Linked DNA regions of Homo sapiens: region 1 is linked to region 2. The links come from fine-mapping of genetic effects on gene expression. A gene starts in region 2. The other region holds a variant in brackets. All regions are shown on one strand. Distances are between the middles of the regions.

Region 1 (16,552 bases), 570 kb after region 2:
CATGGCCCCAGAGCAGTGACGGAACTCTGTCAAAGGACCACAATGGCCCATGCTGGGACCTGGAAATAGTGAAACATTGCTGCAGCCTGGACCAGCAGTACTCAAGGAGGTAGGAGGGTCACCATGTGACAGCAGCTTCTACTGGATGGGAAGTGACACAGCAACAATAGCACTCCTGGACTCTCCAACGTTGCTCCCATGGCTTTTGGATTTAATTTAAAGAAACAAAAGAGGGCCGGGTGCGGTGGCTCATGCCTGCGATCCTAGCACTTTGGGAGGTTGAGGTGGGCAGATGGCCTGAGCTCGGGATTTTGAGACCATCCTGGGCAACATGGTGAAATCCTGTCTTTACTAAAAATACAAAAAATAGCTGGGCGTGGTGGTGCACACCTGTAGTCCCAGCTACCCTGGGAGACTGAGGCACGAGAATCGCTTGAACCCCAGGAGGCAGAGGTTGCACTGAGCTGAGATTGCGCCACTGCACTCCGGCCTGGGCTGGAGACAGAGTGAGCCTCTGTCTCCAAATAATAATAATAATAATAATAATAATAATAATAATAATAATAATAAATAAAATAAAATATCGCTGGGCTCGGTGGCTCACGCCTGTAATCCTAGCACTTTGGGAGGCCAAGGTGGGTGGATCACCTGAGGTCAAGAGTTTGAGACCAGCTTGGCCAACAGGGTAAAACCTCATCTCTACTAAAAAAAAAAAAAAAAAGCCTGGCCTTGGTGGCATGGGCCTGTAATCCCAGCTACTTGGAAGGCTGAGGCAGGAGAATTGCTTGAACCCGAAAGGCAGAGGTTGCAGTGAGCTGAGATCACGCCACTGTGCTCCAGTCTGGGTAACAGAGTGAGACTCCACCTCAAAAAATAAATAAATAAATAAATAAATAAAATAATCTATAGCAGTTGTTATCTACAGTTGAGGAATAGTTTACAACTGTTCCATATACAAACTTATAGGTTGCAAGTCCCCTGTAATGTCCATTATTTTATTGAATCCTTTTTAAACAGTCCTATAGGGGAAGGCAAGGATTAGAATCAGTATTTTATGGGTGAGAAAACTGAGGTTCAACAGAGTTCAGTGACTTGTTCAAGATGACACAGCTAGGCCAGGTGTGGTGGCTCACGCCTGTAACCTCAGCACTTTGGGAGGCCAAGGCTGGTGGAACACTTGAGGTCAGGAGTTCAAGACCATTCAAGACCAGCCTGGACAACATGGTGAAACCCCATCTCTACTAAAAATACAAAAAACTAGCCGGGTATGGTGGCTCAGGCCTGTAGTCCCAGCTACTTGAGAGGCTGAGGCATGAGAATCACTTGAACCCGGGAGGCAGATGTTGCAGTGAGCCGAGATCGTGCCGCTGCACTCCAGCCTGTGCCACAGAGTGAGACTGCATTTCAAGAAAAGAGATCACACAGCTAGTTTGAGACTCAAAGCCAGCTTTGTCTATGGCTAGATGGTGCCTAGCACAGGAATCTAAAGGAAGCATGGTTACATTTAGAGTTTTTGGAGAGAACATGTAGCCAGAGGGACAGTAGGTGAGTGTGAATTAGGCACCCAAAGCGAGCTCGGGTCCCGAGTTGAGACCCGGGAGCATCAGTGAGCCCTCTTAGTGTGGGTCTTTTCTTCATTCTTATCGGCAGCTCCTCTGCTCAGATCTGCTTCTTTCATCAACTAATACTCACAACTCTCTCATTTCCAGACACTTTCCTTTAATTGTGTGTGGGATCATACACAGTATCAGGGAAAACTATCGATAGCAAGCCTGATTATAGACACTGTGAAATTAGCAAAGAGAGAAGAGGTTTTGTTTTGTTTTGTTTACCATTTGTTTAACATATGAGATCTGCTTACCCGTGGTGTCAATGCCTGTAACAATTATACATGTAACCCAGATGTTCCCCAGGGTCTCTCACCACAGGCAAGCTCAGTAAGATGGACTTAGATTCCATTTCCATGGCCTATATGTCCACAGAGCCCTTCCCAAGAGTCTGGAGACCTTAGGGGACTCATATGCTCAGTAACATTGCCTCTGGGGTCCTGGTTCTGGCATGAATCTCTATGACCCAGATGTGAAACTCAGCCACACTCTCAGACAAATAACCAAAAACATTCATGGGTATAATTAGATTTTTTCTCAGTTGGTAAAAATCTTAAATACAGAAAAAACAGAGAGCTGTCTAACAAATACCCATGCCCTCCAACTCTTTGAATTTAATGTTATTATTTTACAGGATCGGCTTTTGATTGTTTTAATCTAATAGGGTTAAAAGTGACATCTCTTACGTATGCCTTCCTTCCCAGAGGAATCCACCATAGGGAATTTGGTGTCTGTCCTTCCAAATCTTGTTTTTATACTTTTACTCATATAATGTATCCATAAATGTTTGTCTTATGTGTTTTTATAATGCTATCATATTTCATTTTCTGCAAGTTGCTTTTTTATGCAATAGTGTGTGTTTTTTCTTTGTTTATTTGTTTTTGAGACAGAGTCTCGCTCTATTGCCTCAGCCCCCCAAGTAGCTGAGATTACAGGTGTGTGCCACCATGCCCTGCTAATTTTTTGTATTTTTAGTAGAAACAAGGTTTCACCATGTTGCCCAGGCTGGTCTTGAGCTCCTGAGCTCAGGCAATCTGCCCGCTTCAGCCTCCCAAAGTGCTGGGATTACAGGTGTGAGCCACCGCGCCCGGCCTGGTTCCTGTTTTCGTAAGGAGATTGGAATGAGATGCAAATAAACAGAGAAGTGATTATATCTAAGAAATACAAACAAGTCTGTCTGCTGCCCTCACTACATGGACATAGACCCACCAGGCAATTCCACCTGCTGCTTCAACTCATATTATTCCCAGTCATTTACCTTCTGGCTGGCAACCTTCTCCTCCTTACCTACTTTTAATGCTCCTACCCCCATTCTGTTCTCTCTGCCTTCTTCGCAGGGGCAAAAGATAAATTCCTCCCATTTTCTCATGGAAAGCTCTTAATCATCTCTTCTGTTACTAGGGGCCTGGTGCTCCTGCCTCCAGTTTGTGGTTCCTCAAACACAGTTCCTTCTTGTATCAGTTAAGGATTGCAACATAGCAAGCCCACCCCAAAACTTAACTGTCTTAAAACAGTACTACTTATTAGCTCTTGAATCTCTGGGTCAGCAGTTTCGCCTGGACTCAGCTAGGTATTATTTCTGGTCTTGGCTAGGTTCATTCAGGCACTGTCGTTAGCCAGGTGGCTCTGCTTCAGGGATTGGTTGACTGTCAGCTGGGGCAACAGCAGTGACTTGACCACTCGTCTCTCCTGCTCCTGCAGGATAGCCAGGGCCTGTTCTCACAGTAGCAGCAGGACTCCAAGAGTGACAGAAGAAGCATGCAAGGCTTCTGGAGGTTCAGGCTCAGAACTGGCACAATGTCACCTCTGCCTCATTCTATTGACCAAAGCAAGTCACAGGCCAGCTTAGATTCAAGATGTCAAAAAATAAACTCCATCTCTTGATTGGAGAAGCTGCAAAGTCACATTCTAAGGGGCCCGGAAACAAGGAGGAGGGGAGGACTGTGGGTTGGATTCTCTGGGAAGCCAACTCTGAGATAGAGATTAACATGCAGGAAGTTACTCAGGGAGTGCTCTTGGGATCAACACCGGTGGAAGAGCAGAGAAGGAAGCAGGATGGAGCAGAGGGAGAAATTGAAGTGCAATGTCAGAACAAAGGCTTCCACTGACCTCATGGAGACCTCTAAAACTGGAATAGGTCTTCCAAGTTGTCCTGAGTAGAGGCAAGGGGACCAGGCCTCTAAGCTCCCAAGCTGATCAATCATTTATGCAGACTGCCCTGAAAAGGCAGCTGCCAAGGAAATTCCCAAAGAGGGCTTAGAGCCAAGGATCATCTGCCAACACTTTTCCCAGTAGCAGGTGGAATAAATCCTTCATTCCTCAGTGGGGGAGGAGGGTTGCCTGTGCCGAACATCACAGTCCACTCCACTGCCACCTCTCCCTAAGAATGCTAATGCTCATGATAAAACGCTTGTCACTTGCTGTATATGTATACGTTAAATATTTATAATCACTTATTAAATGCATCGCCTAACTTGTACAGATTTTAGATGATCACAATGCTAAATGTCACTCCTTTGAACTTAGTCTTCATAGTTTCATTGCTCATTTATCTAGGTCATCCACTCAAAACTTTAAGGATGAGGAGAAACAGCTTCTCCCATCAGAAATCTAGGCAAGAGGCGCTCACTGGCTCCCAACCAGCGGGAGGGTCGTCGTGTGCCTGCGCCTGGGTTGGGGGAGCCTTCGCGCCTAGGCCTTTCCCTCAATTTTTCCTCTTTCCCCCTCGCCCCGCACTGGGGCTTCCTGGTCGGCGCTTGCACAGGGAACTCAGTGCTGAGATTGTCTCAAGCCCCAGGAAAAATGGTGGAAAATTCACTGTCACCATTGCCAGAAAGACCGATTTATGGCCTTCTGCTTCTCTTAAGCTCCCAATTTGGCTTCATACTTTACCTCGTGTAGGCTTCTATTCCTGAATCTTGGCTAAACTCCTTAGGTTTAACCTATTGGCCTCAAAAATATTGGACAGTTGCATTACCTCTCTACTTCCTTATTACTATAGTAATTGGCTATGTGCTCTTGTTTGTACCCCATTCACTCGACTCCATTCGTACAATCACAGATAACTATGCTAAAAATCAACAGCAGAAGAAATACTAAGAGGAGGCCATTCCAGCATTAAGAGCTATTTCTATTTAGTGAAGTAAACCAAATTTTCTTTCTTGTAGCCAAAGACCTTTACACCAAAAACTGAAATGTACCTGGCCATACTAATGAGAGGTGAAGCTGGCTGGGCTTCTGGGTCGGGTGGGGACTTGGAGAACTTTTCTGCACTGACGGGGAGTGTCTGCAGCTTCATTCCTGAAGTCAGCGAGACCACCAGCCGACCGGAAAGAAGAAACAACTCCCGATGTGCCACCTTTATGAACTATAACACTCACTGTGAAGGTCTGCGGCTTCACTCCTAAAGTCAGCGAGATCACAAACCCACGGGAAGGAAGAAACTCTGGACACATCTGAACATCTGAAGGAACAAACTCCAGACATACCGTCTTTAAGAACTGTAACCCTCACCGCGAAGGTCCGCGGCTTCATTCTTAAAGTCAGCGAGACCAAGAACCCGCTGGAGGGAATAAATTCCGGACACACTAACACCAAGCATTTATTTATTTATAAGTTTTTGCCATCGTAATTTTGACCATAAATTAATTCAACCATCTCTCTTATTAATAGAGGAGATGTAAAAATTGTAAATTGATCTTCTCTTAGATTATGTTCAATGAATATTGTAAGTGTTCTCATGTATTGTTAATGAACAGAATAAAATACAGCATTACCATTAAAAAAAAAATAAGTCTAGGCAAGAACCATTTCAAGCCATGCTGGCAACAGAGTCACCAGACTGCAGTTAAGGTAGAGACACGATGTTCTTTGTAGTTCTTTGTAGAGAGAAGGACTAAGATCTGGGTCATGGAGAGATGATCACTCAACAGGGAATGCGGGAAGCTAGAGTAAAATTTGGCTGGCAGACCAAGTCGTGAGAGGAAAAAGAGACCAAATGAGGCTTTGAAAGATAAATAAACAGGCCGGGCGTGGTGGCTCACACCTGTAATCCCAGCGTTTTGGGAGGCCGAGGTGGGCAGATCGCCTGAGGTCAGGAGTTCGAGACCAGCTTGGCCAACAGGGTGAAACCCCGCCTCTACTAAAAATACAAAAAAATTAGCCAGGTGTGGTGGCAGGCGCCTGTAATCCCAGCTACTCAGGAGGCTGAGGCAGGAGAATCACTTGAACCTGGGAGTCGGAGGTTGCAATGAGCCGAGATCGCACCATTGCACTCCAGCCTGAGCAATGAGTGAGACTCTGTCTCGAAAGAGAGAGAGAGAGAAAGAAAGAAACAACCCACCCCACGAGGGCAGCTCTTGATATCTGGGAAGACAGTTCATGCCTTACAGAGGCAAGTTGCTTGTTTGGCAAAATTCCAGGAGAGCCGTCAAATCAGAATTTGGGGACCTGGATGGAGAATTGATTTCACCTGCAACAAAGGCGACTCCCTGTGACCACATAGAAAAGACTCTGCTTTTTGGAAACCAAAGGCTGTGACCTTCACATGCAGGCTTATAGATAGGAACAAATTAACAGGTCAGGCCAAAAAGGAGGAGATGTCAGCAGTGGCCAGTTGGAAAGTTCTGGGAGAACCACAAAATGCCAGAGTCTCTCAATTAAAGTGGAAAAACCGGCTTAGAGTGATTCAATGGTAAGATCAGGATCATGCCATGGGTTGTTAGCTATTCTGTTTAGCTCTCCAGATCTACCCTTCGCCCTCTCCACCAGTGGTGCTGTGTCCCAGAGATTCACTTTAATGGAATATGTCGAAAGGATTCTTTACTCCCTGGCTTTCTATTGGGTTTGCTCAATGGGAGACACGTGCAGGATACTAGAGGATGGAAGAAGAGAGAAATGAGGGTATTTATTTACCCAGCTCCCCCGCCACTGGGGCCAAGGACTGGAACTATCATGGAAAACCGTTTTCTCAACTTCAACTCTTTCCACATTCACGGAAGCACTCCTTCTCCCTGCCTCTTTAGGCCTGGACCCATAATGTACCCCCCTCAACTGTTGCAGTCTCTGGGGTGCTTCCCCCATTCCCGTTGGCTTCCCTTAACGATTGTTACAACTTTATAAATACTTTCCTGGCCAGGTGGGGTGGCTCACACCTGTAATCCCAGAACTTTGGGAGGGTGAAGCAGGAGGATCGCTTGAGTCTGGGAGGTCAAGGCTGCAGTGAGCTGTGATCACACCACTGCACTCCAGCCTGGAAAACAGACTGAGACCTTGTCTCAAAAAAATAAATAAATATTTTCCTTGATCACTGCACTTGAGTGCTATCTCTTTTTTGATGCAATTCTAAATGCTAATCACTTGAGCTAGCTTATTGAAAAGGGGACACTGTGAATTTTTATGGATAGTTGTTCCTTTTGGCTGTCCAGCCTCAGAAACACATACTCATGTCTGAAGAATTTCCCATCATATGAGTCTTGGTGGGAAGTAGAGCTCACTTCCCCACATAGAATGTGGCAGTGCTAGCTATTTGCTTTTCAGCCTCCCTTGCAGCTAAGGTTTGGGCAAGTGACCTAGGCTCAGCCAGTCAGAAGCATAAACCAAACTTTGAATGAGGAGTCGGTAATATAAAGACATAAGGACAGTGCTGGGCATAGTGGCTCATGCCTGTAATCCTAGCACTTTGGGAGGCTGAGGCAGGTGGATTTCTTGAGGCCAGGAGTTTGAGACCAGCCTGGCCAACATAGTGAAACCCCATCTCTACTAAAAAATTTAAAAAAACTAGCTAGGTGTGGTGGTGCGCACCTATAGTCCCAGCTACTTGGGAGGCTGAGGCAGGAGAATCACCTGAACCTGGGAGATGGAGGTTGCAGTGAGCCAAGATCATGCTACTGCACTCCAGCCTGGGCAACAGAGTGAGACTCTATTTTTTTATTTTTTATTTTTTAAATTTTATTTATTTATTTATTTATTTTTGAGATGGAGTGTTGCTCTGTCACCCAGGCTGGAGTGTAGTGGCACAATCTTGGCTCACTGCAACCTCTGCCTCCTGGGTTCAAGCGATTCTCCTGCCTCAGCCTCCTGAGTAGCTGGGATTATAGGTGCACACCACCATGGCTGGGTACTTTTTGTATTTTTAGTAGAGGCGAGGTTTCTCCATGTTGGCCAGGCTGGTCTTGAACTCCTGACTTCAAGTGATCCGGCCACCTCAGCCTCCCGAAGTGCTGGGATTACAGGCGTGAGCCACTGTGCCCGGCCGAGACTCTGTCTCTAAACAAAAGAAAACACAACACAATACAACAACAACAACAACAACCCAACCCAAACCAAACCAATAAAACAAAAACTTCCACTTAAATCTTAAAAAAAAAAAAAAAGAAAGACACAGGGACAGTGGAGAGGTAGTCTGGTGGTGGTGGCCATAGAAGCAGCAATATCCTGTCTCTGGGGCAGCCTGGGCAGTAGGGCCAGTGACTGTTCCTAGCATGCAGATGTGGAGCTTTAGCAGAGTCAGAGAGGCAAGTGGAAGGGTCTGGTACTCTGCACTGGAGGCAGCAGGGTCCTCACAGGCCCTGTGTTTCTGCCATTGC[G/A]GTGTCCAGGTCTGGTTCTTCAGCCTTCCCAGCAATGCCAAAAGCTCTCTGGTATCTTTTCTACTGATTCCTCTCCTGCTTAAATCTACCACAGTCAGTTTCTGTTGCTTGCATTATGAATCCCAACTTGTGGTTTGCGTGCAACCCAAATGTGGGCTACAGCTAGGCTTCACAGGGAAATAGAAAACAGGGGCCCAGGCAGCTACTCCCTCTGCCTCCCACTTTGGTGCCTCAATTTCTCTCTCTCTATCTGTCTCTTTCTCTGTCTCTCTCAATACAACTGCCACATACTTCTTTCCAGCTGTGGTTTTGTCTTAATTCATGGAAAGACATTATAGCTTACTGTTTAGGAAGCACCCACTTTGAGGTCAGAATGCCTGGATTCAAATCTCAGATGTACAGTTTACCATCCACAAGGTTTTGGTCAAGTTACTGATCCTCTTTGGGCTCTGTTTCCTCATCTGTACAATGAGGACAACAGTTTTCCTGTTTTGAGGATGAAATCACACAACGTGTGTAAAGCCCTCACCAAGCTATTAGGCCACAGGAGCCATCAGTAATTGTTGCTATTGTTATCTTCATTATCAGCATTATTATCAGCACGGTTTGGGGACTTATAGAGACTACTTAAAGCAGGCATCTTAAACTTCAAATGCCTACAGGAGCCAACAGGGATGATGAAAAGGAGCCATGTATAGAACACAGGCACACACATTTTCCATAGTCCCAAGGGAAGCTCTCCCAAGGGACTGTAAAAATTGTGCGAGTGTGTGCCTGTCTAGAGGGGGCAGCCATTTCCCAGCCACAGCCATTTATTGCCATGTGGAATGTGAGCCCGGTGATGCCAGATTTTCCACTATTTCAAGAGAGGTCAGATATCCAGCTATTTGGGGTAAGCTTGATGTTTTTCAAAAATCTAAAAAAGCACTATCCTGGCCAAAGGAAACCTTCCTGGGGCCACAGCAGGCTGCAAACGCTAATTTCTATGTTCTAATGCAAATTTCTGGATTGAGTTGAAATTGTCAGGGAGGGAAAGTGGTTAGGCCAGGTTAATTTCATTGGCTCAATCAGGTATGGCCATGGCCCACCACTCACCCAGTGGGGAATGTGGTGGACACTCTGACTGTGGGGTGTGGGCAGGAATGTAGTCATAGGCATACTTTAGAGAAGGAGGCAAGGACCAAAGGGGTGCCCCAAGAGTTGCTTTCCTATGGATGCCAGCACATTAAAAACAAACGCATCAGGAATGCAATAAGTCCCGATAAGTGCAAGGTTAAGAGTGAGGCTTGTTTATCTTGTTATTTATTTAAATAACAGTGTGTCTGGCGGTAGGGCATAACAGGACTAGCACAAAGGCTCAGATATATCCATGTGATTCCAGATTATTTCCACCCTTTCACACCTCCATCCTAGCATGTAGGCCTTTGTCCTCATACTTTTCACCTCATGGTTGCAAGATGGCTGCAATTGTGACCATCACAACTATGTTCCAGGCAGAGGGAGAGGAAATGAGAAGGAGTAACTAATGGCCCTTATGTCAGGACTTTGCAGAAATCCCCAGCATATATATATTTTTTCATCTTATTGGCCACAGCTAGTTCCCATACCCATACCTAGTGACAAAAGAAATTATGGAGGTGAGTATTTTTAGCTTGGTACATTGCAGCCCCAAAGAACATCAAGGTTTTTAAAAACCCTATTTTGGAAACAAGGAGAGAATAACCTGGAGTAGGAAATCAGCAGCCTCTGCCACCTTCTCTGAATATGCACCATGTGCCAGACCCCAGCTAAGTACTGGGATATCAGGCTAACAGTCCCAGTCTGCACAGCAGAAAGATACAGAAGTGGGCCTGGTGCAGTGGCTCACGCCTGTAATCCCAGCACTTTGGGAGGCCAAAGCAGGCAGATCACCTGAGGCCAAGAGTTTGAGACCAGCCTGTCCAACATGGCGAAACCCTGTCTTTACTAAAAATACAAAAAATTAGCCAGGCATGGTGGTATGCATCTGTAGTCCCAGCTACTTGGGAGGCTGAGGCAGGCGAATCACTTGAACCCAGGAGGCAGAGGCTATGGTGAGCCGAGATCGCACCATTGCACTCCAGCCTGGGCAACATGAGCAGAACTCTGTCTCAAAAAAAAAAAAAAAAAAAAAAAAGAGAGATACAGAAGTTGTTGTGGAACCCAACACAGCTGGGCCGGGTTCCAAAGTGAGAAAATCAGCGCTTTGGCTCCTTACAGATCTTCTAGGCCTCCCATCCTTCCTGCCCCTTCCCTGCCCCTCCTGCTGTCAGCGCAGTCCCACAAAGGGCAGAGTAGGGTGGAAACAATGTGTGATTAACACCAGTAGCAGTTTCAGGAGGCATCCAAGAGATGTTCCAGAGAGAAATATGTAACTGGCACATCTGGTTTATAATGTGTATTAATTCCTGACATGTAGTTTGAGTAATATATGTAAAGCAAAAAGTCCAAGTGTTGATTTAGGGGCCTTATTATTACTCTGTCAGCAGAATTCATGTTCTATTTGTGCAGTGCTCTGGGCCCAGCACCTCACCTAGGGCAGCAGGAAGGGGAAGGCTTTCTCATGGGTGCCAGTGGATGGTGGAGGCCCCTGCTGATGGTGATAGGGATGTGGATGAGTACTTGGAGCCCCTGGTAGGGTTGGCAGAAGCTCATCTGGCAAAGAAGATCGTGGAGCTAGACCAAGTGCCAGCTGAGGCTAGAAGCAGAGGCATCCTACCCCTCAGAGGCAGAAGTAGCTTAAAGTCTAGAAAACTGTGGGCTGTGGAGTTCAAAGCCAGCTCTGCCACTTCATTGCCATGTGACTTTGAGTAAGTTATTCCAGCTCTCTGAGCCTCAATTTCTGCTCCCATAAATGAGAACCATAATAACGCCTACCTAACAGGGCTGCTGTGAGGTTTAAATAAAAACAACAGGTGCTGAGAATTTACTATGGGTCAGCGTAGTGTTGCAAGTGTTTGACATGTATTATCTCATTGAATCCTCACAGTAATCTCATGTAGATACTATTATGATGCCCAATTTACAGTTGAAGAAATGCGGCACAGAGAGGTGAAGTAACTTGCTCAGGGTCACACAGCTAGTGACTGGCAGAGCTGGGGTTCATACCTAGACAATCTAGCCCCAGAGAACACTCACTGAGATGTTTCAACAGACAGCTATATTTTATAGTAAGCACACAGTAAAGGGTAATTCTCTAGGTCAGTGATGTCCAATGGACCTTTCTGTGATGAAAATGTTTTGTAATTCTGTGCTGTCCAATACACGAGCCACTAGCCACAGATGACTATTTAACATTTGAAATATGGCTAGCTTGACTAAGGATGTGAATTTTTAATTTAATTTAATGTTAATTAACTTAAATTTAAATAGCCAGGCTGGGCACAGAGGCTTACGCCTGTAATCCCAGCACTTTGGGATGCCAAGGCAGGTGGATCACTTGAGTCCAGGAGTTCGAGAGCAGCCTGGGCAATATGGTAAAACCCTGTCTCTACTGAAAATACAAAAATTAGCTGGGCATGTTGGCACACGCCTGTAATCCCAGCTACTTGAGAGGCTGAGGCACGAGAATCACTTGAGCCTGCGAGGCGGAGGTTGCAGTGAGCTGAGATGGTGCCACTGCATTCCAGCCTGGGTGATGGAGTGAGACCCTGTCTCAAAAAAAAAAAAAAAAGAAGAAGAAGAAGAAATAATTTTGAATATTGAACCAGCCTTGCATACCTGAACAAAATCTCACTTAGTCATGGTGTATAATTCTTTTTATCTATCGCTGGATTTGATTAGCTAATATTTTGTTGAGGACTTTTACATCCAAGTTCATGAGAGCTGTTGGTTTGTAGTGTGCCTTCTTCTTTCCACCCTTGAGAATCTTCCTAGGTTTGCTGTGTTGTGTCCAGGGATTTTTAGTTTTTAGGGAGAGGACCTGGGAGAAATGGAGCTATTCCATGTTGGTGGAACTGGAAATCCCACACATTCTTTTTTTACATATATGTACTATTATACAGATGTGCTGCAATGGATTAAACCAATTTCCTGGTTAACACTTAGATTCTTTCTAATTATTTGTCGTTGTGAACAATGCCACAATGAATAAGTTTATGCATTTGTCATTTCATACTTAAAGGTAAAGGTGCTATTGTAAATTCTCAGAAATGGAATTGTTGGGACAAAGAGCACATGTATTTTTAATTTTGATGTTTCCAAATTATCTTCTATAGGTATTGCACCAACTTATATTCCTTATTCTCCTGAGACTGCCATGCCCCCTCCACTGACTCTCTGCCGACAGATAACATGTTAGGGTCTTGCTAATCTGATAGTTTAAAAAAAGTGAAATTTATCTGAGTTTTGAGTCATAATTAGGTAGGCCTTTTCCATGCCCTCAAAATAAAGGAATTTTCCTATGTTTTCTTTTAGTGTCTTTACTTTTTTTTTTTTTTTTTTTTAGACAGAGTCTTGCTCTGTTGCCAAGGCTGGAATGCAGTGGCGTGATCTCGGCTCACTGCAACCTCCAGCTCCCGAGTTCAAGCGATTCTCCTGCCTCAGCCTCCCGAGTAGCTGGGGCTACAGGCGCGTGCCACCACGCCTGGCTAATTTTTATATTTTTGGTAGAGACGGGGTTTCACCATGTTGACCAGGCTGGTCTCGAACTCCTGACCTCAGGTGATCCGTCCGCCTCGGCCTCCCGAGGTGCGGGGATTACAGATGTGAGCCACTGTGCCCGGCCAACATCTTTACTTTTTTATTTGAATCTTTGATCCTTGTAGAAATTATCCTGAGCTGTATGTGGTGGCATGTACCTGTAGTTTCAGCTACTAAGGAGGCTGAGTCGAGAGAATTGCTTAAACCCAGGAGTTGGAATCTAGCCAGGCAGCATCACCAGAGTCCTGTCTATCTTTTAAAAATTCCCCTATCTTATCACCAGGAATTAGAGACCAAAAAAGAAAAAAAATTACCTGGTGAAGAGAGAGAGGAATAGATCTAACTTGTTGCTGTTGTTGCTTTCTATCATATGGGTACCCAGTTTTCCCGTCAACTCTCTTGAAACAGTCTATCTTATCTCCTCTGGTGTAAGATGCGACTATTATCATATACTTAATTCCTGTGTGTATTTTGGATGTATTCTAGGCTTTCTAGTCTATCCGGCTAGTTGTCTATCTATTCATACAACAACACTATACTGCTTTAATTATTATTTATAAAGATTGTATCTTTGATAGCGGTAGTCCTCTCTCATTCTTTTTCTTTTCTTATTTATTTATTTGTTTTATTGTTTCTTTTCTTTTTTTTTTTTTTTTTTTGAGACAGAGTTTCACTCTTGTTGCCCAGGCTGGAGTGCAATGGCATGATCTTGGCTCACCGCAACCTCCGAATCCCGGGTTCAAGCGATTCTCCTGCCTCAGCCTCCCGAGTAGCTGGGATTACAGGCATGAGCCACCACGCCCAGCTAATTTTGTATTTTTAGTAGAGACGGGGTTCCTCTATGTTGGTCAAGCTGGTCTCGAACTCCCGACCTCAGGTGACCCGCCCACCTCGGCCTCCCAAAGTACTGGGATTACAGGCGTGAGCCACTGCGCCTGGCCTTCTTTTTTCACTTTTTTGTAGAGATGAGAGTCTTGCTTTCTTGCCCAGGCTGCTCTTGAACTGGCCTCAAGGGATCCTCCTACTTCAGCCTCCCAATGTGCTAAGATTACAGCTGTGAGCCACCACACCCAGCCTTCTTATTTACATTTTTAAAGTTAACTGTAAAACATCCTCAAGCAGGTCCTTCAGGAGGTATTCCTGAAGAAGGCATTGTTATCATAGGAGTTGACAGCTCCATGTATGTATTGCCGCCGAAGACCTTCCAGTGGCATGAGATGTGGGTGGACCTGGAATATGATGATATTGATGATCCTGATCCTGTGTGGGCCTAGGCCAATGTGTGTGTTTGTGTCCTAGTTTTTAATTTAAAAGTTTAAAAAATAAAAACAAAAACCTTCAGAATCAAAAAAGCTTATAGAATAAGCATATAAAGAAGGAAAATAGTTTTGTGGAGCTGTACAATTTGTTTGTGTTTTAAGCTATGTATTACAAAACAGTCAATAGGTTTTTAAAATTTTTTAAGTTTATAAAGTAAAAAAGTTACAGTGAACTAAATTTATTTTTTAAGAAAAAAGATACTTTTCATACATTTAGTGCAGCCTTAGTGTCCAGTGTTTATGAAGTCGACAGTAGTGTACAGTAATGTCCTAGGCCTTCACATTCAGTCACCACTCACCCACTGATGCACTTAGAGCAACTTCAGTCTTGCAAGCTCCATTCATGGTAAATGCCCTATAGAGGTGTACAATTGTATCTTTTATACCATATTTTTACTGTACCTTTTCTATGCTTAGATATGTTTATTTATTATTTATTTATCTGGGAGACAGGGTCTTGCTCTGTCGCCCAGGCTGGAGTGCAGTGGCGCAATCTCGGCTCACTGCAACCTCCGCTTCCTGGGTTCAAGTGATTCTCTTGCCTCAGCCTTCCGAGTAGCTGGGATTACAGGTGCGTGCCACCACACCTGACTAATTTTTGTATTTTTAGTAGAGATGGTGTTTCGCCATGTTGGCCAGGCTGGTCTTGAACTCCTGACTCAGGCGATCCACCTGCCTCAGGCTCCTAAAGTGCTGGGATTACAGGCGTGAGACACTGTGCCCAGCCAACTTAGATATGTTTAATTACACACACACTTCCCATTGTGTTATAATTGCCCATAGTATTCAGTATGGTAACATGCTGTATAGGCTTGTAGCCTAGAAGCAATAGGCTATACCATATATATGTCTATGGTATAGCAATAGGGTGTGTAGTGGGTTATACCATCTAGGTTTGCATAAGTGCACTCTATGATGTTCTTTGCACAAGGATGAAATAACCTAATGAAGCATTTCTCAATATTTATCCTCACGGTTAAGTGATGTATGACTATTTATATATATATATATATATATATATATGTGTGTGTGTGTGTGTGTGTATATATGTGTATATATATACACGTATATATATATATATATATATATATGTAGAGAGAGAGAGAGGGAGGGAGGGAGAGAGAGAGAGCACATAAGGACTGTGTATAATTATATATATTTTTTCCTTATGCCATATATATTAAAAAAGAAATATATATATATATATATTTTATTACTGAGTCATCTTATCCAAGAACATGACACGTTTTCCTATTGTTCAAATCTTTCATGTCCTTTGGTAATATTTTAAACTTTTCTTCATATAAATCTCGCACCTTTATTTCCAGGTATTTTGTAAAGAAGTGTTTAAATTTCTTCACAAATTGAATCTCTGCCTCTTTTTTGTTGCTATTGCAAATGGGATATCTTCTTCCTTTGTGTCTTCTGATTGACTATTGTTTGCATACATGAAAGCAGTTGATGTTTATTAATTCTTTACCATGTTATTCCGTGGAATTCATTTATTGTTGTCAGCAGTCTCGCAATTGATTCTCTTGGTGTTTTCAGTTACATAATCTTTTCCCCCAAATACTGATAGATTTATTTCCTCTTTTCCACATCAATGCCTATAAGATGACCTAATAAGAAGAGACCTCAGTTCCCTACCCTAATAGTCTATCTGGAAAAAAGATGTCTCAACAAATTAACCATAATAAAGATACAAAGGGCAGAGTCAAGACAAGAAGCAAAGGTATCTGGAATCCCAGTCTAAGTTCATTTGCAGTGTTCTATGCAGCCTACGAGGTGAGGGCCTGCCTGCCTCACCCTTCATTACTGTTGCTTCTCAAATAGCCAGCTTAGAGCTGCTTCTCAAAACCCAACCATAATTTTTCCAGACTGGGCTGAACCAATGAAACAAAATATCTAACTAACAGGGGAGGGGAGAAGAGGAAGGGTGGAAATCATGCTGGCTTTCTTGGGTTTGCACTATGGCTTCTGGCTAAAATCTTCACACCAGAGCTTGCCTAACCTTTCCATGGTCTCAGGAATGGGAGAATCTACCAGAAAGACCCAGAACCTTTGTGCAACAGATCTATGTCCAAGATATATCACTAAATAGCACATTCTTGTTACAAAACAATGTACCAAATAGGTTTATAATAATACTTTTCAAAAAAAGTATTTTTATTTTGAATAAAAATACTTTATTTTAAATAACATTTTATTTTAAAATATTTAAATACTTTATTTTTATTTCAAAATAAAATACATTTTTTTGAAAAGTATTGCTATATGCTGGTACACACATAGAAAAAGAGATCTAGAGGAAAATTAGTTAAGATGATGTCAAAAGCAGTTATGAGCCAGGTGCAGTGGCTCACACCTGTAATCCCAGCAT
Region 2 (13,801 bases):
AAAATACATTCACTCCTAGGAAAAGAACAAATTCGCACCTGATAGAGCATGTGACAAGGAGAATCACATCTGCCTGAATGGAAAGAAAGGAAAACAAGGAAAATTACATAATATCTTGGATATTAGCCTTGTACAATTCCTGCCCTACAGCTCTTTATTATTTTTTTTTCCTTTTTTTTTTTTTGAGACAGAGTCTCACTCTGTTTCCCAGGCTGGAGTGCAGTGGGGCAATCTCAGCTCACTGCAACCTCCACCTCCCGAGCGGTTCAAGCAATTCTCCTGCCTCAGCCTGGGATTACAGGTGCCCACCACCACGCCCAGTTAATTTTTGTATTTTTAGTAGAGATGGGGTTTTACCATGTTAGCCAAGCTGGTCTCGAACTCCTGACCTCAAGTGATTCACCTGCCTTGGTCTCCCAAAATGCTAGGATTACAGGCATGAGCCACTACACCCGGCCTATTATTTTTCTTTAACTATTTTTTTCCTTTTTTTTTTTTTTTAATAGAGAAAGGAGTCTCGCTCACTTGCCCAGGCTGAAGAGCAATAGCATAACCATAGCTCACTGCAGCCTCAAACTCCTGTCTTCAAGCAATCCTCCTGCCTTGGCCTCCCAAAGTCCTGGGATTACAGGCATGGTGACCCACACCTGGACATTTTAACCATTTTTAAGGGTACAGTCCTGTGGCATTAAGAACATCTGCAATTTCATAACTACGCATTTTCCATAACTTTTTCATCTTCTGCAACTAAAACCCTGTACTCGTTAAACAGTAACTCTCCAACTTCCCTCTCCACAGCCAATTCTTAACTTAGCTCCTTGTCTGAAGGCGCACATCACCATAAAAGTTTCAAAAACAGCTGGAACAAAAGTACAACTCAGTCCCATGGTGAACACTTCACCCAAGGGAACTCTCTCTCACCAGGGGGCACCCTGCTCCTGAAACTACACCTAAGAACTGGCACAAATGCAGAATCTTGCCCAGGTCCAGGAAACAAAGGAAATAGGAAATGCATGTACCTCTTGGAGGTTACTGGTCCGCAGGTAGCCACTCTTCTGTAAGATGGACCAGGCTATCTCTGTGTCATTCACATTCATCTGGCAGCCATAGGTCTCGAGGTAGACTGCAGTGAGAGGTTGGGGGGAATCCATGGTAGACAGACAACAAGGGGTCTCGTGTCTCAAAAGGTCTCCTTCCCAAATGCTCTAGAAATATCTGAGGCATCTGGTTATCCACTAAGTCCCCTATTGCTTCAATCTTAAGATAACATAAATTGCCAGATGTACCCCCAAGTTAATGATAGACCTTCAGAACAAAAGAAATACCATATTAGGCTGGGCACAGTGGTTCATGCCTATAATCCCAGTACTTTGGGAGACTGAGACAGGAGGATTACTTAAGCCCAGGAGTTTGAGACCAGCCAGGGCAACATAGGGAGACCCTGTCTCTACAAAAAATTTAAAAATTAGGCAAGTGATACATGCCTGTGGTCCCAGCTACTCAGGAGGCTGAGGTAGAACTGCTCGAGCCCAGGAGACTGAGGCTGCCGTGAGCCATGATCACACCACTGCACTCAGCCTGGGCAATAGAGTGAGAACCTGTCTCAAACAAACAAAAAAATATACCACATTATATATCCACACCAATTACAAGCCATGTTATCTTTTAAATGGGGAAAACATGTACCTGAGAATCAAGGAAATATAGTTATAAAAACAATTAGAAAAGGAAGGACTAGGCCGAGGGTGGTGGCTCACGCCTGTAATCCCAGCACTTTGGGAGGCCAAGGCGGGCAGATCACTTGAGGTCAGGAGTTCGAGACCAGCCTAGCCAAAATGGTGAAACCCAGGTCTCCACTAAAAATACAAAAATCAGCCAGGTGTGGTGGCGTGCACCTGTAATCCCAGCTACTCAGGAGGCTGAGGCAGGAGAATCACTTGAAGCCAGGAGGCAGAGGTTGCAGTGAGCTGAGATCGCACCATTGTGCTCCAGCCTGGGCGACAGAGCGAGACTCAAAAAAAAACAAAAAAGAAAAGAAAAGGAAGGGCTAACTGATAGTGTTCATCAGCCTGAAGGGAAAATAAGTTTAAATCCACATGTTACACTCCTCCTCAAAATAAAGAGGTTTTCCAGCCTCTGGAAGTAGCAGCAGTGGCCAGAGGGTACATAAAGTCACAAAATTAAAATGAGGCATCTTCTTACAGTAACTTCATCTTAAATGAAAGCAAGGCTATATTATGAAGTAAAACTAATTTTGTACACAGTTGTAAGAATATGAATTTCACATTCTGGCAGCTTCAAACTATATTCCAAGATCAACCCCCGTCCCCACCAGCAGGTCTTATTTCCAGACTCCAATAAATTCCAACTAAAAGTTAAGAGCTGAATGATAATCAGCTTTTGATCAAATGATTCTCCCACCTCAGCCTCCTGAGTAGCTAGGACTACAGGTGCACACTATCATACCTGGCTAATTTTTTATTTTTTGTAGAGACAGTGTTTCACCATGTTACCCAGACTGTTCTTGAACTCCTGGGCTCAAGCAATCCACCCATCTTGGCCTCCCAAAGTGCTGGGATTACAGGCATGAGCCACCGTGACCAGTCGAGTTTCTTGATATTAATATTACTTGGTGGAGTCTAATGATTCCCACAGCCTTCCCACACTGTTAACCTTCCAAGCCAGTTCTGTAATAAAAGAATCATGCCAGGAATGACAGAGAGGAGCAAGGCAGGAAGCCCAAAGGGATAAGCGAAGTAAAACCAACCTTTTCTCTGCCTTCCAAGAAGTTCATCCATCATGAGATAGGGAGGTGGGTCTTCCACTTCTGAAGACAGCTTCTCCTGAGGAGCTGAGGCACTTTTTAAAAAATGTTGAAAAGTCGGTCCAGCAGCCAGCCTGGAGCTGAAATCCTTCCGAGCTCCATCCTCCTGCCTCTCTGGACTGGGACACATGGTACTAGAGAGACTGCTGTGTGCCCTGCACATCCTCAGCGACAGCCAAGACACAGAGGCCAATGGTCCCCACCCCAGAGACCTCTGCACTTGGAGGACACACTGTAAAGGGTGCATGGCACTAAACAGCCCACAGTCTGCAAAAGAATGACAGACATCACCAGCATTTATTGAACACTATGGACAGGACACTGCTGTGAGCACTTCAAGTGTATACATCTATTTACCCCTCACAAAAGCCCATGAAGAAGGTACTCCTAATAATATGACCTCTGTTTTACAGTTGAAAAAAACTGAGGCAACTTGCCCAAGACCACACAAAGGAGTGCCAGAGATGAGATGCAAATCCAGGCAGTCTTTTCAAAACAAGGGGTGGTAGAGATGAGATGGAAAGCCCTGACAAAATGACAAAATAGCACCTTGTGCCAAGACCAGTTCCCAAGGCTTTAAGTGTATTAACTCATTAAATCTTTACAGCAATCCTAGGAAGCAGATACTATTATTGTTCCTATTCCGAAAGACATAGGTTGAGGAACTCACCTAAGCTCCTACAGCCAGTAAGCAGTCAAACAAGGACTCAGATAAAAATCTGTATGGATGCAAAGCCCGTGCCACTACCCATCTTGCTACACTGCCTCTTAATAAAGTGAAAACCACTCACTGTCTGAGGGCATCTTCCTTTGAGTTCCTTCAGAAGGAAAGCAACTAATGTGAGGGCATTGTATGCCCGATCAGTGACTCCTTCTACCCTTCAAGAGTCTTGGCTGGATGCAGCCGCTCATGCCTGTAATCCCAGGACTTTGGGAGGCCGAGGCAGGAGGATCACTTGAGGTCAGGAGTTCAAGACCAGCCTGACCAACATGGCAAAACCCCATTTCTACTAAAAATACAAAAGTTAGCCAGATGTGGTAGCAAGTGCCTATAGTCCCAACTACTCAGGAGGCTGAGACAGGAGAATCACTGGAACCCAGGAAGCAGAAGTTGCTATGAACCGAGATCGCACCACTGCACTACAGTTTGGACAACAGAGCGAAACTCCATCTCAAAACAAAAAAAAAAGAGTTTCAAACTACTACCTTCAAACTTTCCACCCAGACCCTCTCACACTTGGCTTAGCAAATAACACAACCTTTATAGAGAACAATTTGCCACTTTCCATCAAAATTACAAGTGTGCAAACCATCTGACAAAGCATTTCCACTCATAATTATCCTGCAGATAAATCTATACACATACAAAATGACCTATGTATAAAGACATTCAGTCTAGGCACAGTGGCTCATGCCTGTAATCCCAGCACTTTGGGACGCTGAGGCTGGTGGATCACTTCAGGCCAGGAGTTCGAGACCAGCCTGGCCAACACAGTGAAACCTCATCTCTACTAAAAATACAAAAAATTAGCTGGATGTGGTGGCACACACCTGTATTCTAAGATACCCGGGAGACTGAGGCATGAGAATCTCTTGAGCTCAGGAGGAGAAGGTTGCAGTGAGCCAAGATCACGCCACTGCACTCTAGCCTGGGCAACAGAGTGAGACTGTCTCAAAAAATAAAAATAAAAGATATTCAATGCAACAGTGTTTCTAATAGCAAAGGAAAGGGAAAGATCTAAATGTTATCAATAAAGGACTAGTTAAGTAAGTTCTGGTGCATCCATACAATGAAACAAGATACAACTGTTAGAAACCAAGGCTGGTGGCCGGGTGCAGTGGCTCATGCCTATAATCCCAGCATTTTGGGAAGCTGAGACAGAAACATCACTTGAGCCAGGAATTCGAGACCAGCCTGGGCAACATAGTGAGACCTCATCTCTATAAAAATAACAAAAAATAGCCGAGCACAGTGATGCACACCTGTAGTCCCAGCTACTCAGGAGGTTGAGATGAAAGGATTGCTTGAGCCCAGGAGATCAATGCTGCAGTAAGCCATAATCGCACCACTGCACTCCAGCCTGGGTGACAGAGTAAGACCCTATCTCAAAAAAATAAAAATAAAAATAAATGAGGCTGAACCTATACATGACAAAGGCAAGGAAGCAATATGCTCCATGCTACCTACATTATACTACTGTTGAATCTGTGGGGAAAGAGGGTGGGAATATTGAGGTACCTATTTGCAGGTACATACAATATCTCTAGAATGCATAAGAAACAATAGTTGCCTCCCAGGAAGACTTAGGTGACTAAGGTATAGGAGATGAAGCCATACTATTTACTTTTTTTTTTTTTAATTTTCTGACTAAGGAAGAATTCTAGGATCACCATATATTTTTACTGGACCCCACATCTATGGCCTACTACACTCCAGCCATGCCACACTTCTTTGTATTAATCTTCACTAGCTTATAGGATTTTACACATGCTGTTCTCTGGCTGGTATTTATCTTCTCTCTAGTGGCCTATGGTACTTTCAGCTTTCTTCCTCTGGGAAGCCTGCTCTGGCCATCACCCCCGAAGTCTAGGTGGGGTCCTCCTCTGGGTTCCCAAAGCTCTATTCTATCTCTCCATCACAAGACTCATCACACTTTGCTGTTAATTATTACTGACACTTCTGCCAGCCCTAGTAAACTGGCAGGTTCCTGCAAGCAGGGAACAAGTATCATTCATTTCTACACCTTCACCATCTCCCATTGTGGTAGCTGCCTCACGGCAGGTGCTAAACATCAGTGGTTCCCAACCTTTTTGGTACTAGGAATTGGTTTCATGGAAGACAATTTTTCCACAGACATGGAAGCAGGGGTGTGTTGAAACTGTTCCACCTCAGGCATTTAGATTCTTACAAGGAGCATGCAATCTTGAGCCAGTGCGGTGGCTGACATCTATAATCCCAGCACTTTGGGAGGCCGAGGCAGGCGGATTGTTTGAGCTCAGGAGTTCGAGACCAGCCTGGGCAACATGGCAAGACCATGTTTATTTGTTGTCTCTACAACAAATTAAAAAATAAAAAATTAGCCAGCCATTGTGGTATGTGCCTGTAATCCCAGCAACTTGGGAAGCTGAGGTAGGAGGATCACTTGAGCCAGGGAGGCAGAGATTGCAGTGAGCTGAGATTGCGCCACCACACTCCAGCCTGGGCAACAGAGAGAGAGAGAACTTGTCTCAAAAAAAAGGAAATGGAATGCACAAACTAGATGCCTTGCATATACGCAGTTCACAATAGGGTTTGTGTTCCTGAGAAACTAATTCCGTGGCCAATCTGACGGGAGGCAGAGCTCAGGCAGTAATGCCAGCTTTGCTGCTCACCTCCTGCTGTGCAACCCGGTTCCTCACAGGCCACAGACAGGTACCATTCTACCACCTAGGGTTAGGGGAACCCTGCTATACACGTGTAAAGAGCAGATGTGGCCCATTACCTTTCCAATGAGATGACCTGCCACATCTGCTACTAGCACTTAGGAGCAATGCCAACCCAGTTTCAAGAGTCAGAGAAGAACAGCCTTAAAGTGTGAACTTTAAAATCGCCCCTTTCTACTCCATAATTGCTGTGTGACCTTTGGCAAGACAAATTTCTGTCTCTGAGCCGCCAATTCCACATGTGTAAAATAAGGATAAAAGCAGCACCTACCACCCCATAAGTGTTATTAAGAATAAGATATTAAAAACCCAACTTGAGATACAGTAAGCGTTCACTAACTGCACATTTACAGCCCACACCCCCTTTCACAGAGAGTATTAGAGCATCCTGGTTAAGAGTATGAACTCCACTAAAAATACAAAACTTAGCCGGGTGTGGTGGTATGCGCCTGTAATCCTAGCTACCCAGGAGGCTGAGGCAGGAGAATCGCTGGAACTCGCGGGGCAGGGGCTACAGTGAGCCGAGATCGCGTCACTGCACTCCAGCCTGGGCGACAGAGCAAGACTCCCGTCTCAAGAAAAAAAAAGTATGGACCCTGGAGTCAGAATCTGACCCCACTGCTGCCAAGCCAGCTAAACCTTAGGCACCTGTCTTAAACTCTGGGAGCCTCTAGATGGGGATAATAGCACCTATCTCCATAAGCCTACCGTAGGATCAAATGCAATAATACAAGCAAAATGCTTTGCATAACGCAATGTAGAAGCCTCTCTGGAGGCTCGAAATTAATTCTGACAGTCGGCAATGAGGCTGGAACAACAGCGTACAACATCCCAAACATTTTATTGGCTGGTTACAATGCGTTAGGCATGGTGCAAAGCATTTTCCGCGAATTATTACCTATAACCCTCATAGCAACCCTGTGAGGCAGGCTGTACTGTCAACCCCACTTCACGGGTGGCGAAGCGAAGCCTTGAAAGAAGTGGAGGTGACCTGTCCAAGGTCACACGGGGTTAGGCGGCGGGGTTAGGGTACGAACCCCTACAGCCTGACGCCAGGCCCCACGCCATAACCACCGTGCCATCCTCCCTCTTGAACACCGTGCGCTTCCCGGGATCCGCGGCCCCTCCTGCCCCAGGCGCCAGTCAAAAGCGGGTGCGCAGCCCACCCCGGCGGCCGCGCTGCTCACCTCCCGCAGCAGCAACAGTGCCCGGGGTCCCGCAGCGTAAGTTCTGCCGGCAAGTCGGATCCCCTCACAGGTCCGCCGCTGCGTTCATACACAAGCGACTTCCGTTCCGCCGCTACTTCAGGCCGGGTCATGCTAACGGAAGTGCTTCCTTTTTACAGTCCGGGTGGACCCAAAGCTCCGTGGCGGTGCTGAACTTTAGGGCAGCCACTAGCCACGGACTTAAGCGGCAATTGAGCTCCTCAAAGTGGGTGAGTGCAAATCAAATGTGCGCTAAATGTCAGATACACTGGATGTGGAAGAAGAAATGTCAAATAGTGTCAAATAGTTCATATATATAATGTTTATATTGATTATGTGCTGCAATAATTGTTGGGATATATTGGATTAAATAAGTACATTTGTTGAATTAGTTTTTTTTATTTGTAGCTATGGTGGTAGAAATATTTGAATTAAGTTCACCTGTTGTTTCTTTTTACTTTTTCAATGTGGCTAGCAGGGGGAAAAATAATATGGTGTGATCATGGCTCACTGCAGCTTCCGCCTCCCATGCTAAAGCAATCCTCCCACCTCACACTCCCAAGTGGCTGGGACTACAGGCAGGCGCCACCACGCCCAGCTAAAATTTTTTTAATTTTTTTGTAGAGACCGGTCTCCCCATGTTGCCCAGGCTGGTCTCAAACTCCTACCTAGGCGCAAGCCATCCTCCCACCTTGGCCTCCCAAAGTGCTGGGATTGTAGGCATGAGCCACCGTGTCCGGTCCTTACTGGGAAATTTTAAGTCACCTAAGAGGTTCACGCTCTATTTCTATTGGAGGGTGCTGCCCTGTAGGTTAATGACTTCCTGATTCACATCTCCAGCTGGACCCTCCCTGCAGTACCAGAGCCATAGCTCAGCTGCCTACTTGACACCCCTTCTTGAGTGTCTGATGACCATCTCTAACTTATACAGAACTCTTCATTTCCACACATGCACCTTCACCAAAAACCTGTACCTGTCATTCTGGCCCATCTCAGTAAATGGCCCAACCATCCTTCCAGGTGCACTAGGAGGAACTGAATGGTCATTTTCTTCACCTCCCTGGATCCCCACATTCTATCTGTCAGTAAGCCCTGTCAACTCTAACTCCAAAATGTCAAATCTGTCTACTCGGTAGCTACAACTACCCAGGCCACCATTGTCTCATCAGAAACAATCACAGTAGCCTGCTAATGGTCACCTTGTCTCCTGAGAACAGTTTCCCACACATAGCCTAAGGGAATTTGTGTTTGTTTTATTAAATCAAATTATATCACCCCTCTCCTGAAAACTCTCCGTGGCAGGCCGGGCGTGGTGGCTCACATCTGTAATCCCAGCACTTTGGGAGGCCAAGATGGGCAGATTGCTTGAGCCCAGGAGTTCTAGACTAGCCTGAGCAACATGATAAAACCCCATCTCTACAAAAAACACAAAAATTACCCCGGCATGGTGGTGGGTACCTGTGGTCCCAGCTACTCAGAAGGCTGAGGCAGGGAGGATTGCTTGAGCCAGGGAAGTTGAGGCGGCAGTGAACCATGACCTCAACACTGCACTCCAGCCTGGGTACCAGAATGAGACCATGTCTTGAAAAAGAAAAAAACAAAAACAGCCGGGCACGGTGGCTTATGCCTGTAATCCCAGCACTTTGGGAGGCTGAGGTGGGTGGATCATGAGGTCAGGAATTCGAGACCAGCCTGGCCAATATGGTAAAACCCCGTCTCTACTAAAAATAAAAAATAAAAAATAGCTGGGCATGGTGCCGCGTGCCTGTAGTCCCAGCTACTCGGGAGGCTGAGGCAGGACAATTGCTTGAACCCAGGAAGCGGAGATTGCAGTGAGCCAAGATCGAGCCACTGCACTCCAGCCTGGGCGACAGAGCAAGACTCCATCTCAAAAAAAAAAAAAAAAAGAAAAGAAAAGAAAAAAACAAAAACAAAAAGCTTAAGAGCTTTCCATTGCCCGTGCAATAAAATCCAGATTTCCTACTGTATCCTAGGGGCCTGCATGATGTGGCCCCTGCTTTTTTTTTTTGAGACGACGTCTCACTCACTCTGTCGCCCAGGCTGGAGTGCAGTAGTGCAATCTCGGCTCACTGCAACATCCGCCTCCCAGGTTAAAGCGACTCTCCTGCCTCAGCCTCCCGAGTAGCTGGGATTACAGGCGTGCACCACCACGTCAAACTAATTTTTGTATTTTTAGTAGAGCAGGGTTTCACCATGTTGGCCAGATTGGTCTCAAACTCCTGGCCTCAAGTGATCCGCCCACCTCGACCTCCTAAAGTGCTAGGATTAGAGGCGAGCACCACCACGCCCGGCTGATTTTTGTTTTTACTAGAGATGGGTTTTCGCCATGTTGGCCAGGCTGGTCTCAAACTCCTGGCCTCAAGTGATCCTCCCACCTCAGCCTGCCAAAGTGCTGGAATTACAAGCATGAGCCACCATGTCTGGCCCCCTGCTTACTTTTACTTCTCCAACCCATGTACTTCTTACCACTTACTTCTCCTACTGTGTTCTTTCTAGTTGACTATACTTCAACTACATAATTTTATCTTGCTCCTTCAATAACCCAAGCAAATGTTTATTTCAGACCCTCTGTCCTTTTTTTTTTTTCTTTTCTTTTTTGAGACGGAGTCTTGCTCTGTTACCCAGGCTGGAGTGCAATGGCGTGATGTTGGCTCACTACAACCTCCACCTCTCGGGTTCAAGCAATTATCCTGCCACAGCCTCCCAAGTAGCTAGGATTACAGGCACGCAACACCATGCCCACAGAGCTTCTCTTCTTACTATTATCTTTCTGGAATGCTCTTCTCCAAAATTGTTTCGTGGCTGGCCCCTTCTCATCCTTTAGGTCTCAGCATAAATATCAGCTCTTCAGAGAGACCCTCTCTGACCACTTCATATAAACTACTCTATCACTTCTCTTATTATTTTCTTCACCATATTTGTCACTATTCAAAATGTTGGCATTACTTATTTTCTTATCATTGCCTATTCCCTGGACTATCAGCTAGGGAGGGACACGTCGTGTCTTGTTCATGGCTTTATCCCCATGATCTACACAGGGTCTGACTCATAGAAGGGCTTAATGAAAATTTGTTGAATGAATAAATGACTGCTTTCTGTCTTAGTTTGGGCTCCCCAGAAGCAGACCTGAGACAAGTATTTTTTTTTTTTTAGACCAAGTCTCACTCTGTTACACAGGCTGGAGTGTAGTGGCCCAATCTTGGCTCACTGCAACCTCCACCACCCGGGTTCAAGCGATTCTCCTGCCTCAGCCTCCTGAGTAACTGGGATTACAGGCAAGCGCCACCACACCCGGCTAATTTTTGTATTTTTAGTAGAAACAGGGTTTCACCATATTGGCCAGACTGGTCTCTAACTCCCCACCTGCGGTGATCCACCCACCTTGGCCTCCCAAAGTGCTGGGATTACAGGCATGAGCTACTGTGCCCGGCTACTGAGACAAGTATTTGAGTGCAGGTAGTTGATTTGCAAAGTAATCTCAGGAAACACTGGTAGGGTAGTAGGGGAGTGAAACAGGGAGGGGAGACAGCCAATAAACATTGTTAACAAGCAACTTTCTTGCAGGCATCTAGGTCTTAATCCTGCTGGAGAACACTGGGAAATAATGCAGAACACTGTGCTGGTTAATTATTTGTGTCAACTTGACTGGGCCACAGGTTGCCCAGATATCTAGTTAAACGTTATTTCTGGGTGTTTCTTGAGGAAGAGATTAGCTTTGGTGGACTGAGTAGAGTAGACTACCCTCCACAATCTGGATGGACATCATCTAACCCCTTGGGGACCCAAATAGGACAGGAAGACAGAGCAAGGTTGAATTCTCTGTCTGCCTGACTGCTTAAGCTGAGACATTGGTCTTCTCCTGCCCTTGGACTGGGACTTAAACACCATTGGCACTCCTGATTCTCAGTCTTTTAGATTCAAACTGGAATTTACACCACCACCTTTCCTCGGTGTGCAGCTTGCAGATGGCAAATTGTAGGACTTCTCAGCCTCTATAATCACTTGATCCAATTCCTTATGATAAATCTCATTCTAGATGTAGAAATATACATATAGTGGCCAGGCACAGTGGCTCATATCTGTAATCCCAGCACTTTGGGAGGCCAAGGTGGGAAGATCACTGGAGGTCAGGAGTTCGAGACCAGCCTGGCCAACATGGTGAAACCACATCTCTAATAAAAATGCAAAAATTATGGCCAGGCGCAGTGGCTCACACCTGTAATCCCAGCACTTTAGGAAGCCGAGGCAGGCGGATCACCTGAGGTCAGGAGTTCAAGACCAGCCTGGCCAACATGGTGAAACCCCCGTCTCTACTAAAAATACAAAAAAATTAGCCGGGCATGGTGGCGAGCGCCTGTAATCCCAGCTGCTCAGGAGGCTGAGGCAAGAGAATTGCTTGAGGCCAAGACAGGAGGATTGCTTGAGTTCAGGAGTGTGAGACCAGCCTGAGTAACATGGCAAGACCCCATCTCTACAACAAATTAAAAAATAAAAAATTAGCCAGCCATGGTGGCACAGTCCTATAGTCTTAGCAACTTGGGAGGCTGAGGTAGGAGGATCACTTGAGCCTGGGAGGCCGAGACTGCAGTAAGCTGGGATCCCGCAACTGCACTCCAGCCTGGGCAACAAAGCGAGACCCCACCTCCAAAACAAAAAATAGGGCGGAGGGTGGTGTTCCAAGTGAAGGCACCAGACTGCTGATGGCCAGAAGGAAAAGGAGTGAGTCTTTGGTGGTTTGGGATGTTGCTGAAAATTTAGTGGATAAGCTGAGAAAATTTCATTTTCACAAAGAAACAATGCTACCATTGTAAGTAAGCTAAAAGTGATTGCCTCAAAGTTAAGTTACCTGGTCTCTCTTTTTTTTTTTTTTGAGACAGAGTCACGCTCTGGGGCCCAGGCCGGAGTGCAGTAGCGCAATCTCTGCTCGCTGCAAACTCCACCTCCAGGGTTCAAATGATTCTCCTGTCTCAGCCTCCCGAGTAGCTGAGATTACAAGTGCACACCACCATATCTGGCTAATTTGTTGTTGTTGTTGTTTGTTTTGTTTGTTTTTTTGAGACCGAGTCTCACTCTGTTACCCAGGCTGGAGTGCAGTGGCCGCGATCTCAGCTCACCGCAACCTTCACCTCCCAGGTTCAAGCAATTCTCCTGCCTCAGCCTCCTGAGTAGCTGGGATTACAGGCAGGTGCCACCATGCCCGGCTAATTTTTGTATTTTTAGTAGCAACAGGGTTTCACCATGTTGGCCAGGCTGGTCTTGAACTCCTGACCTCAGGTGATCCGCCCACCTCAGCCTCCCAGAGTGCTGGGATTACAGGCATGAGCCATCACACCAGGCACATCATCTTTGTTTTATCTTGTCGCTACATTAAAGAAACTGAACCTTTCAAAAGTTTAAAAAAAAAAAAGTTCTGGGCTTGGCACGGTGTCCTAGCACTTTGGGAAGCTGATGCAGGAGGATCACTTGAGGTCAGGAGTTTAAAACCAGCCTGGCCAACATGGTGAAACCCTATCTCTACTAAAAATACAAAACATTAGTGGGGCATGGTGGTGGGCGCCTGTAATCCCAGCTACTCAGGAGGCTGAGGCAGGAGAATCGCTTGAACCGGGAGGTGGATGTTGCAGTGAGATGAGACCCTGCCTGGGTGACAGAGCAAGACTCCGTCTCAAAAAAAAAAAAGTTCTCCATCATTGCCATTGTCATTGTGATTTTAGGTAGGGAGTCATAACCACTGCCCACTCACATCCAGCCAGCACATCGCAGTTTCCGAAGTACCAAACACATTCCACTCCACCTCCCTTCTGCAGGAAAGGGTCCTGAAGCTCTCTAAGATGGCTTTGACATGGGTCCACAAATTCTTTGACATTCCTTTCTTCAAGAGGTGGAGCCTAATTCCCCTCCCTTTGAGTGTGGACTGAACTTAGTGACTCATTTCTAATGAATAGAACAAAGCAGAAGCAACAGTGTAAGGCTTCCAAGACCGGGTCATAAGAGGCACTGTTTGTGGCTTCCTCCTTGCCCTCTCTTCTGTCTCACTGTGGGGAAAGCCAACTGCCATATCATGAGAAAACTCAAGCAGCAGCTCTAGGGTTAGCCCTACATGGTGAGGAACTGAGACCTCCTACCCACAGCCATGTGCATGAGCAGTATTGGAATGGATCCTCCAGCCCCAGTCAAGCCTTCAGATGACTGCAGCCCTAGCCGACAACTTGACTGCAACCTCATGAGCGACCCTGAGACAAGAACAGCCCAGCTTAGCCCCTCTCAAATTTCTGACCCACAGAACCTAAGAGATAATGAATATTTGTCATTTTAAGCTGCAAATTTT

Which allele goes with the higher level. Alleles are on the strand shown, and positions count from the first base shown. SD is a standard deviation of normalised expression in the study named.
For the expression in monocytes after R848 of the gene that starts at base 7,526 in region 2, allele G in region 1 goes with a higher level than allele A (large effect, 0.93 SD a copy in Quach 2016).

Evidence for each region. PIP is the estimated chance that this variant, and not a neighbour inherited with it, causes the effect.
Region 1: its variant is fine-mapped to the expression of CDK5RAP1 in monocytes after R848 (Quach 2016, PIP 0.95).

What each region holds. Positions count from the first base shown.
Region 1 is chr20:33,960,777-33,977,328 of GRCh38, forward strand. It overlaps the pseudogene PIGPP3. Among named protein-coding and RNA genes, the nearest start is that of RALY, 25 kb to the right of the region's middle. The variant G/A (reference allele first, on the strand shown) is at 8,195.
Region 2 is chr20:33,393,994-33,407,794 of GRCh38, forward strand. CDK5RAP1 (CDK5RAP1 mitochondrial tRNA methylthiotransferase) reads right to left here and starts at 7,526. Exons shown (of 14, transcript NM_016408.4): 1 at 7,435-7,526; 2 at 2,768-3,091; 3 at 1,020-1,123; 4 at 39-73. The coding sequence starts at 3,071. It overlaps LOC124904889 (a long non-coding RNA gene), which reads left to right and starts at 7,589. Exons shown (of 2, transcript XR_007067567.1): 1 at 7,589-7,682. RefSeq lists enhancers at 7,237-7,326, 7,467-7,666.